Homo sapiens: one gene and its partner. The protein of the gene in region 2 interacts with the protein of the main gene of each other region in a pairwise test. Each region holds a gene or a part of one and is shown on either strand. Other genes may lie near its edges.

Region 1 (4,260 bases), on a different chromosome or scaffold from region 2:
GAGCCTCTAGGCCTTGATTGAGTGAGGTCTGTGCATGGGGTCTCGCAAATGTGTGTTGTGAGCAGTACAGCCTCCACAGTACTGTACTGCACACCCTTGTTGCACAGAGTGTGTGCGGAGAAGGGAACACATTTCCCCAACTTCCACTGCCCTCCATGAGGCCCTCTGCTTCCCTGGTCATCCTCATCAGCCTGGTTACCCTAGCAGTCACCCACTCACTCAGGACCTATATATAAGTATGATTGGCAATGGGATGACTATTTGTTTCCATGGTTCTCCAACCAAAAAGGTTATTCTGATAAGTTAGGATGCTGCTCAGACATTATCTAATTAGCACTGTGTCTGCATTGCAGAAAATAACTAACACTCAGCATTTTCACAAGATAATTTGGTCACATCCTGAATATTCAACTGGGTGAGTCAGAGGGAAGAAAAGACACACAAGGAAGTAGGAGCTTGATTTGGGTTAAGCTTGGAGGTACTACGTCCCACCTCTAGCCTCGCTGATGAAGAGAAAATCACAAGTAGGATCCCACAGTATTGGGGTGTTGCAAGAAATACAGAAGAGTTCTTGTCTCTTTGCATTTTTATCTATTTACTAAATCTAGCTGGTTAGCTTTAAAACATTCATGTCAAATTCTTTAAGTTTACAGGAAAATAGTCAAAGATTATTTTACCATGTTATAATTTGAGTCTTTGAGTATCACTCATTAGTATCAGCTGATTTGAAATGCTGCGGCTGCCTCTTGGTTTTCTCAAAAAATCTGTTTTTGGTGTTCCTTAAAAGACAATGTTGTCAGATCTCATAATTCAGCACATGTTTATTGAGAACCTCCTTTGTTAAGAGTGTTAAGTGCTAGATGCTTTCTGTTTGCTTGGTTCTTTTTAAAATAACTGAATTAGGTAGATGCTACTAATTTAAATAGACGTTGCTTGAAAGAAAAACAAATGAAGAGAGCAAGAGATTATCTGAAATATAATTGAATTTGTAAATACTTACTGGTGCTGCCCAGGTCACACTGAAAAGGAGTAGTCCCACACAGAAAACTCGCATCTTTGAGAATCTCTGTAAAAAGACAACAATATCTTACCACAAAGCATTGCCAGTTATAAACTGCAGCCATAAGAAGAGATAAAACACATAGGAATATATAAACACCCTTCCCCTTGGCAGTTCATATCCTTTTGTGTATGTGTGTGTATAGACTATGTATAACTTGCTTATACCCGAGTGTGGACATTTTAAGAACTTTCATATGTCTAGTTATTCCAATGTGAAAATGAAAATTATTCAATATCATTAAAACAGTAAAGTCAGTTGATAGAAATATATTTTATAGACACATTTATTTGCTCTATCATCAGCTCTTCTTCCTCTTGTCTTTAGAAAGAGATTGTTTAATTATTTGTGTAATTCAAAATGACATTAAGTTGATGTAGCAGCTCATAACACACTCTAAGTTTGTCAGGGTAGCAGATTGCACTGTGAGGAAAGCTTATCTGCCTCCGGGCTGGTGCCCTAATCTGTGTCTCATGTTCATTAGCAATGTGTCTGAATTAGTAGCCATCCATGGGCTGGAGAGTGAACTAATTTTTGCAACACTGACATTAATGGCTAACATTTATTGAATACTAAAATGAGCCAAGCACTGGGTCTAAGAATTTTGCATGCATTCAATTATTTGAGCCTCACAACAACCCTACAAGTTAGGCGGCGTTACTATGCCTGTTGTATAGATTAGGAAATAGACACAAAAAGATCAAATAACTTGCTTTAGAATTCACAAATATTAAGGGGCAGAACTGGGATTAGTATCCAGGCAATGTGGCTCTAGACCCAGTTTTCTTCATCAAGACTCTCTGCCACCTTAAATAACTTTCTATTCTTTTATCTTATTACAGAAAAATCCATGTACAGTTGACTTAAAGGCAAATCATATTTTATATTGGGCTCAACAAAATGATGTTCAAAATACTAACATTTAGTTACAAATAAAGGTATTTGTTTATATTTTGGTAAATATACCAACAGGAACTAGTGAGCTCACTTAAGTAGCCATTAGATTGGAAAAAAGTCAACATGTCTTTGGACTATTGATCTTATTATTATATTGTGAAAACAATAAATTTATGCCACTCTGAGATTTCTTGAAGAAAAACTTGTTTTTATGGGAAAAAATAATCTAAATATTCTTGCAATCTTTAAACACCTCAAGGAAAAGCTGGTATTTGGAGAAATGATTGTAACTATTAAATATATTCTAAAATCCTAGGCTATGTTTTTCTAAATTAATGCAATTAGAAGGATCTAAATTCTAACTATAGTTTACCCTTCCAAGCATTTTATAGATCAGGACAACGTAAGTAACTTATGAAATGAGTTAATGCTCATCAGTAGAAATATCAACACAGATGAGGTTTCAAAGTATGAATAAGATCAGATTTTCCTGATTGCAGTTTGTTAAGTGAAGGGATAGAAGAAAACTGAAGTCTGAGTTACTGTGGATCTTGATAATGCTAATAACAAAAAAAAAGAGAAAGTTGCTATCAAATCATCAATTTTAGTTGATGATTTCTAGAGCATGGTAACGCATTTCCTATTTTATAAAACAAAGCACCAAATATTACACAGTTTTGCTCAGTAGAGAAGATTTTCAAAAGTAATAAAACCATACTTGGGTGGCAAGCATCTTAAAAACGTAAACAACTATGATATAAAGCTATTTGCTGTCAAGAACATGAAAGCCAAATTACCTGGTATCTTTCACCTTCAGAATACCTGGCTTCTTGTTGCAGGATTAGAAGTCTCTGGGCATTTTGCTGAAATTTAAAGTTTGTTAGAGTTCCCAATGGCCAATCAGCACTGGCTCACTCAGCGCTAGCAAACAATTTGTTACAAGCGCCCACAGATAACCATAGGGGGTGAAGTAATTTTAATCTAAAAATGTGTTTGTGGTAGAAAGCTACTATCAAATGTTCCAGAAAGTGGGATAAACAGAAAATATAAATACCTCAGTTTGGACATCATGTTGTCAGATAATCAAAATTGATTTCAGAACTGCTAATTAGGACTGACTGAATACCTAACAAGTTTAGAAATGGAAAACATTTTTGCTATCCTTTTATGTAGAAAGTTTATGATGTCAATTTTATCTAAGTGAAATTCAGCAACATTTAACAAAAATGTTTTAGGTGCCTACTGTGTGACAGGCATTGGCGAAACTGCAGTGAACAAAACAAGACAGAAAAAAATCCCTGTCTTCCTGGAGCTTAGAATCCAATAAGGGAGACAGATAATAAACAAGATAAATGAGTTAAATAGATTAGATAGTGACATATACTAAGTCTAAGGAGAAAAAGTATTGTTGGGGAGTAACAAGCATTGGGGGTGGGGACACTGGGTTGAAATTTTAGATAGGAAGTCCTGGGAAGGCCTCAATGAGAAGGCAACTTTTGAGTAAAGACCTTGTTATGGTTTCAATGTACGTGTCCCTCCAAAATTCCCATGTTAGAACTTAAACCCAAGGTGACAGTATTGAGAGATGGGCTCTTTAGAAGGTGATTAAGTCATGAAGGCAGACCCCAGTATGAATGGGATTAATGACCTTATAAAAGGGCAAGAAGAAACTAGCTAGTCCCTTTTTGCCCTTCTGCTTGTCTGCAGTGTGAAGACACAGCATTTGTCCCCTCTGGAGATGCAGTAGCAAGGTGCCAAATTGGAAGAAGAGATAGACAGCCCTCGTCAGGCAATGAACATGCTGGCCTCTTCATTGCGGAATTCCCAGCCTCCAGAACTGTGTGAAATAAATTTCTGTTTTTTATAAATTACCCAGTCTGTGGTATTCTGTAGTAGCAGCATGAACAGACTCAGATAAGCCTGCAGCCATATGACTGTCTATGGGAAGACCATTCCAGGAAGAAGAAATAAGAAAAATAGTGCCCCAGAAATAAAAGCCTTGTGACTTGTTCCAGGAACAGAGAAGAGGCCACTTTGGTTGGAGGCCTGAGCAAGGGGAATAGCAACAAATGAGGTCAGAAGGGTATTAGATGGCAGATGGTATAGGACCTGTAGGTCATTGCAATGCTTTTGACATTGCTATGAGTGAGAAGAAAAGTCCTTGGAGGTTTTAAGCACAGGCATGATTGAGGAGTGACTGAAGTAGGAAAAAGGCAGAGAGAATGGCTAGGAAGCTCTTGTAATAATCCCAGCCAGAGATGATGGAGGCTTGAACCTGAGTGCGGCAGAAGGGATGATGAGAC
Region 2 (3,500 bases):
TCAGCATTTTGGGCAAAGTCATTCAACAAGTCTAGAAAGTTCCAAACTTTCCCACATTTTCCTGTCCTCTTCTGATCCCTTCAAACTGTTCCAACCTCTGCCTGTTACCCAGTTCCAAAGTTGCTTCCACATTTTCGGGTATCTTTTCAGGAGCACTCTACTCTACTGGTACCAATTTACTGTATTAATCTGTTTTCATGCTGCTGATAAAGACATACCTGAGACTGGGCAATTTACAAAATAAAGAGGTTTAATGGGCTTACAGTTCCACATGGCAGGAGAGGCCTCACAATCATGGCACAAGGTTAAAGGCATGTCTTCTCACATGGCGGCAGATAAGAGAAGAGAGTTTGTGCAGGGAAACTCCCGTTTTTAAAACCATCAGATCCCACAAGACCTATTCACTATCACAAGAACAGCACGAGAAAGGCCCACCCCCATGGTTCAATTACCTCCCACCAGGTTCTGCCAACCACACGTGGGAATTGTGGGAGTAACAATTCAAGATGAGATTTGAGTGGGGACACAGCCAAACCATATCAGTTACATTTATATAAAGTTCAAAAACAGGCAAAAATAGTTTATGGCGATAGAGGACAGAATAGTGATTACCTTTGAGAGGGAAAGAGACACTGATTGGAGGGGGCGCAAGAGAGCCTTTTCGAACACTAAAAATGTTCCACATCTGGATTTGAGTGATGACTACACAGATATCTACAAATATAAACATTCTATACATTTAAATTTGTGCAGTTTTCAATAAACATTTAAAGATACTTTCTCTAAACAAATTTTTAATTTTGTTTTTTTTAGACAGCGTCTCGCTCTGTCCCCCAAGCTAGAGTACAGTGGCGCGATCATAGCTCACTGCAGCCTCGACCTCTTGGACTCAAGCAATCCTCCCGCCAGCCTTGCAAGTAGCTAGGACTACAGACGCTCACAGCCAAACCTGGCTAATTTTTTTTTTTTACTTTTGTAAAGGCCGGCTCTTGCTATATTGCCCAGGCTGATCTCTAACTCCTACCCTCAAGGCATCCTCCCACCTCAGCCTCCCAAAGTGCAGGATTACAAGCATAAGCCACCATGCCCAGACTAAACAATTTTTTAAAAAAAAATTAGTAAGCTTTTTAGTTGGATCCACAACAGGAATTAATCAAAAGGAAAAAAAATGTAAAGCCTTATACACAAAGATCTTTATTGCAGAATTTACAATAGCAAAACACATACACACACCTGGAAATAACATTTAATAAATGAATGCCATGCCAACCCTGGATTTCTCTGGTGTGAGAGAAATTAATATTTGGCATCTGTCTGATACTAGTAGCCAAACTTAATGCTGATTAACCTAAAGGAGCCATCTGCCCTGAGGAAGAGCATGATCACAGACACCAAAGCAAAAAAGGGCTAAGCTATTCAAGGCTGAAAGAGGAAAGAGACAAAAGCAAGAGATGAAGTGAGACGTAGACAAAAGCCAAATCATGCAAGACCTCACAGGCCTTTTTTTTTTTTTTTTTTTTAAAGACTATAGCTAAGAAATGAAAAGAAAAAATAAAGTAACTGATTTCCTTGGGCAGCAGAATTACTGGGAGACAGGGGTTGTACACTAAATATTCTAAATGTTTCTAAAAATGAAAATATATTATTCAAGAGCATGTAGTACTTGCAAATGATCAAGCATTTCCAAAAAAAACTGCCCAGCCCTATTAAATTTATAAAATATTTCTGCGATACAGCTGGAATAATTACAAGGTACACAACATATTACAGTATTTGTTGTATCTATTATTTGAATTGATCTACACACTAACATATGAAAATACGTGCTAAAATTTTTGGAAGAAAAGGATGAATTTTTTTTTTTTTGAGATTAAGTCTCTCCTTGTCACCCAGGCTGGAGTGCAGTGGCATGATCTCGGCTCACTGCAACCTCTGGCTCCTGGGTTCAAATGATTCTCCTGCAGCAGCCTCCCAAGTAGCTGGGATTACAGGCATGCACCACCACGCCCAGCTAAATTTTGTATTATTAGTAGAGACAGGGTTTCACCATGTTGGCCAGGCTGGTCTCGAACTCCTGACCTCAAGCGATCCACCTGCCTCGGCCTCCCAATGGGATTACAGGCATGAGCCACTGCGCTGGGCCAGGATGATTCTTTTAAAAAAAAAAAAAAAAAAAAAACTTTTGAGAAACATCCATTCTTTTAAATATTTCCACATATTTTCACTGCTTGTTTTATTCAACTGGCTGTTTGAACAAAAGCAAAAATTATCCATACCATATTCATGTCCAATTCAGCAATCATTACTTACAATTTCAGGAATAGAAACAAGAGAATCAGTGTTTTAACAGGTTTTTTTAACTGATAATTTAAACAAATAGAAAAAGCAACTATTAACAACCAAAAAATAAATGAAAAACAGACCAAGAGAATAAGCATTCCTTTCCCTCCACAGAGAGATTTTACCTGATAGTCTTCTATGCTGTCTTACAGCATTCAACTATTGTTACGTACACATAAGAAAAATACGAAAGCAACCATACATGGTTTCTGTTACAGAAACTTTAGAGTTAAGAGGAAAAATAAACATGAAGAACAAACATATAAAAGCACTCTAACTCACCAAATGGAACAAATGATTTTTCTTTCTTTCTTTTTTTTCTTTTGAGACAATCTCGCTCTGTCACCCAGGCTAAAGTGCAGTGGCGGGATCTCACAACCCCGCAACCCCTGCCTCCCGGGTTTAAGTGATTCTCCTGTCTCAACCTCTTGAGTAGCTGAGATTACAGGCATTCGCCATCACACTCAGCTAATTTTTGTATTTAGTAGAGACAGGGTTTCACCATGTTGGCCAAGCTGGTCTCGAACTCCTGGGATCAAGTTATCCGCCCACCTCAGCCTCCCAAAGCGCTGGGATTACAGGAGTGAGCCATCAGGCCTAGCGGAACAAATAAAATTTTTTTTTTTTTGAGACAGAGTCTTGCTCTGTTACCCAGGCCGGAGTGGAATGGCATGATCTTGGCTCACTGTAACCTCTGCCTCTGGGGTTCAAGCCATTCTCCTGCCTCTGCCTCCCGGGTAGCTGGGACTACAGGCATGCACCACCACAGTGGGCTCATTTTTTTATATCTTTAGTAGAGATGGGGTTTCACCATGCCGGCCAGGCTGGTCTCAAACTCCTGGACTCAGGGGCTCCGCATGCCTCAGCCTCCCAAAGTGCTGGGATTACAGACGTGAGCCACCGCGCCCGGCCTCAACAAGATATTTTGTCTTGTCTTGCTCAACAAGAAGTGATGGTTCCTGACAGATGAACAAGAGGACAAAAAGTAGCAAAATGTGAAGGTGTTACAGTTCTAACACTCAAAAGAGAAAAAGAACATTACAGCTAGATCACTGCATTTAGTTATATGATAAGCCCTCCAGGTTTCCTCTAAATCATTACATTGTTCTGTATCCACATTCAAGGCCTCCAAAGATTAATTGGCATTATCAAGAGATTCG

Evidence for each region.
Region 1: the proteins of NCK1 (region 2) and MEPE interact in binary tests that used the Homo sapiens proteins (3 or more experiments, as listed by UniProt).

What each region holds. Positions count from the first base shown.
Region 1 is NC_000004.12:87,831,509-87,835,768, reverse strand, and holds the start of MEPE (matrix extracellular phosphoglycoprotein isoform a precursor), read right to left. Parts: upstream 2,801-4,260; 5' UTR 2,755-2,800; intron 1,067-2,754; 5' UTR 1,055-1,066; coding exon 1,001-1,054; intron 1-1,000. UniProt on the Homo sapiens protein: Promotes renal phosphate excretion and inhibits intestinal phosphate absorption. Promotes bone mineralization by osteoblasts and cartilage mineralization by chondrocytes.
Region 2 is NC_000003.12:136,868,708-136,872,207, reverse strand, and holds part of NCK1 (SH2/SH3 adapter protein NCK1), read right to left. Parts: intron 1-3,500. UniProt on the Homo sapiens protein: Adapter protein which associates with tyrosine-phosphorylated growth factor receptors, such as KDR and PDGFRB, or their cellular substrates. Maintains low levels of EIF2S1 phosphorylation by promoting its dephosphorylation by PP1.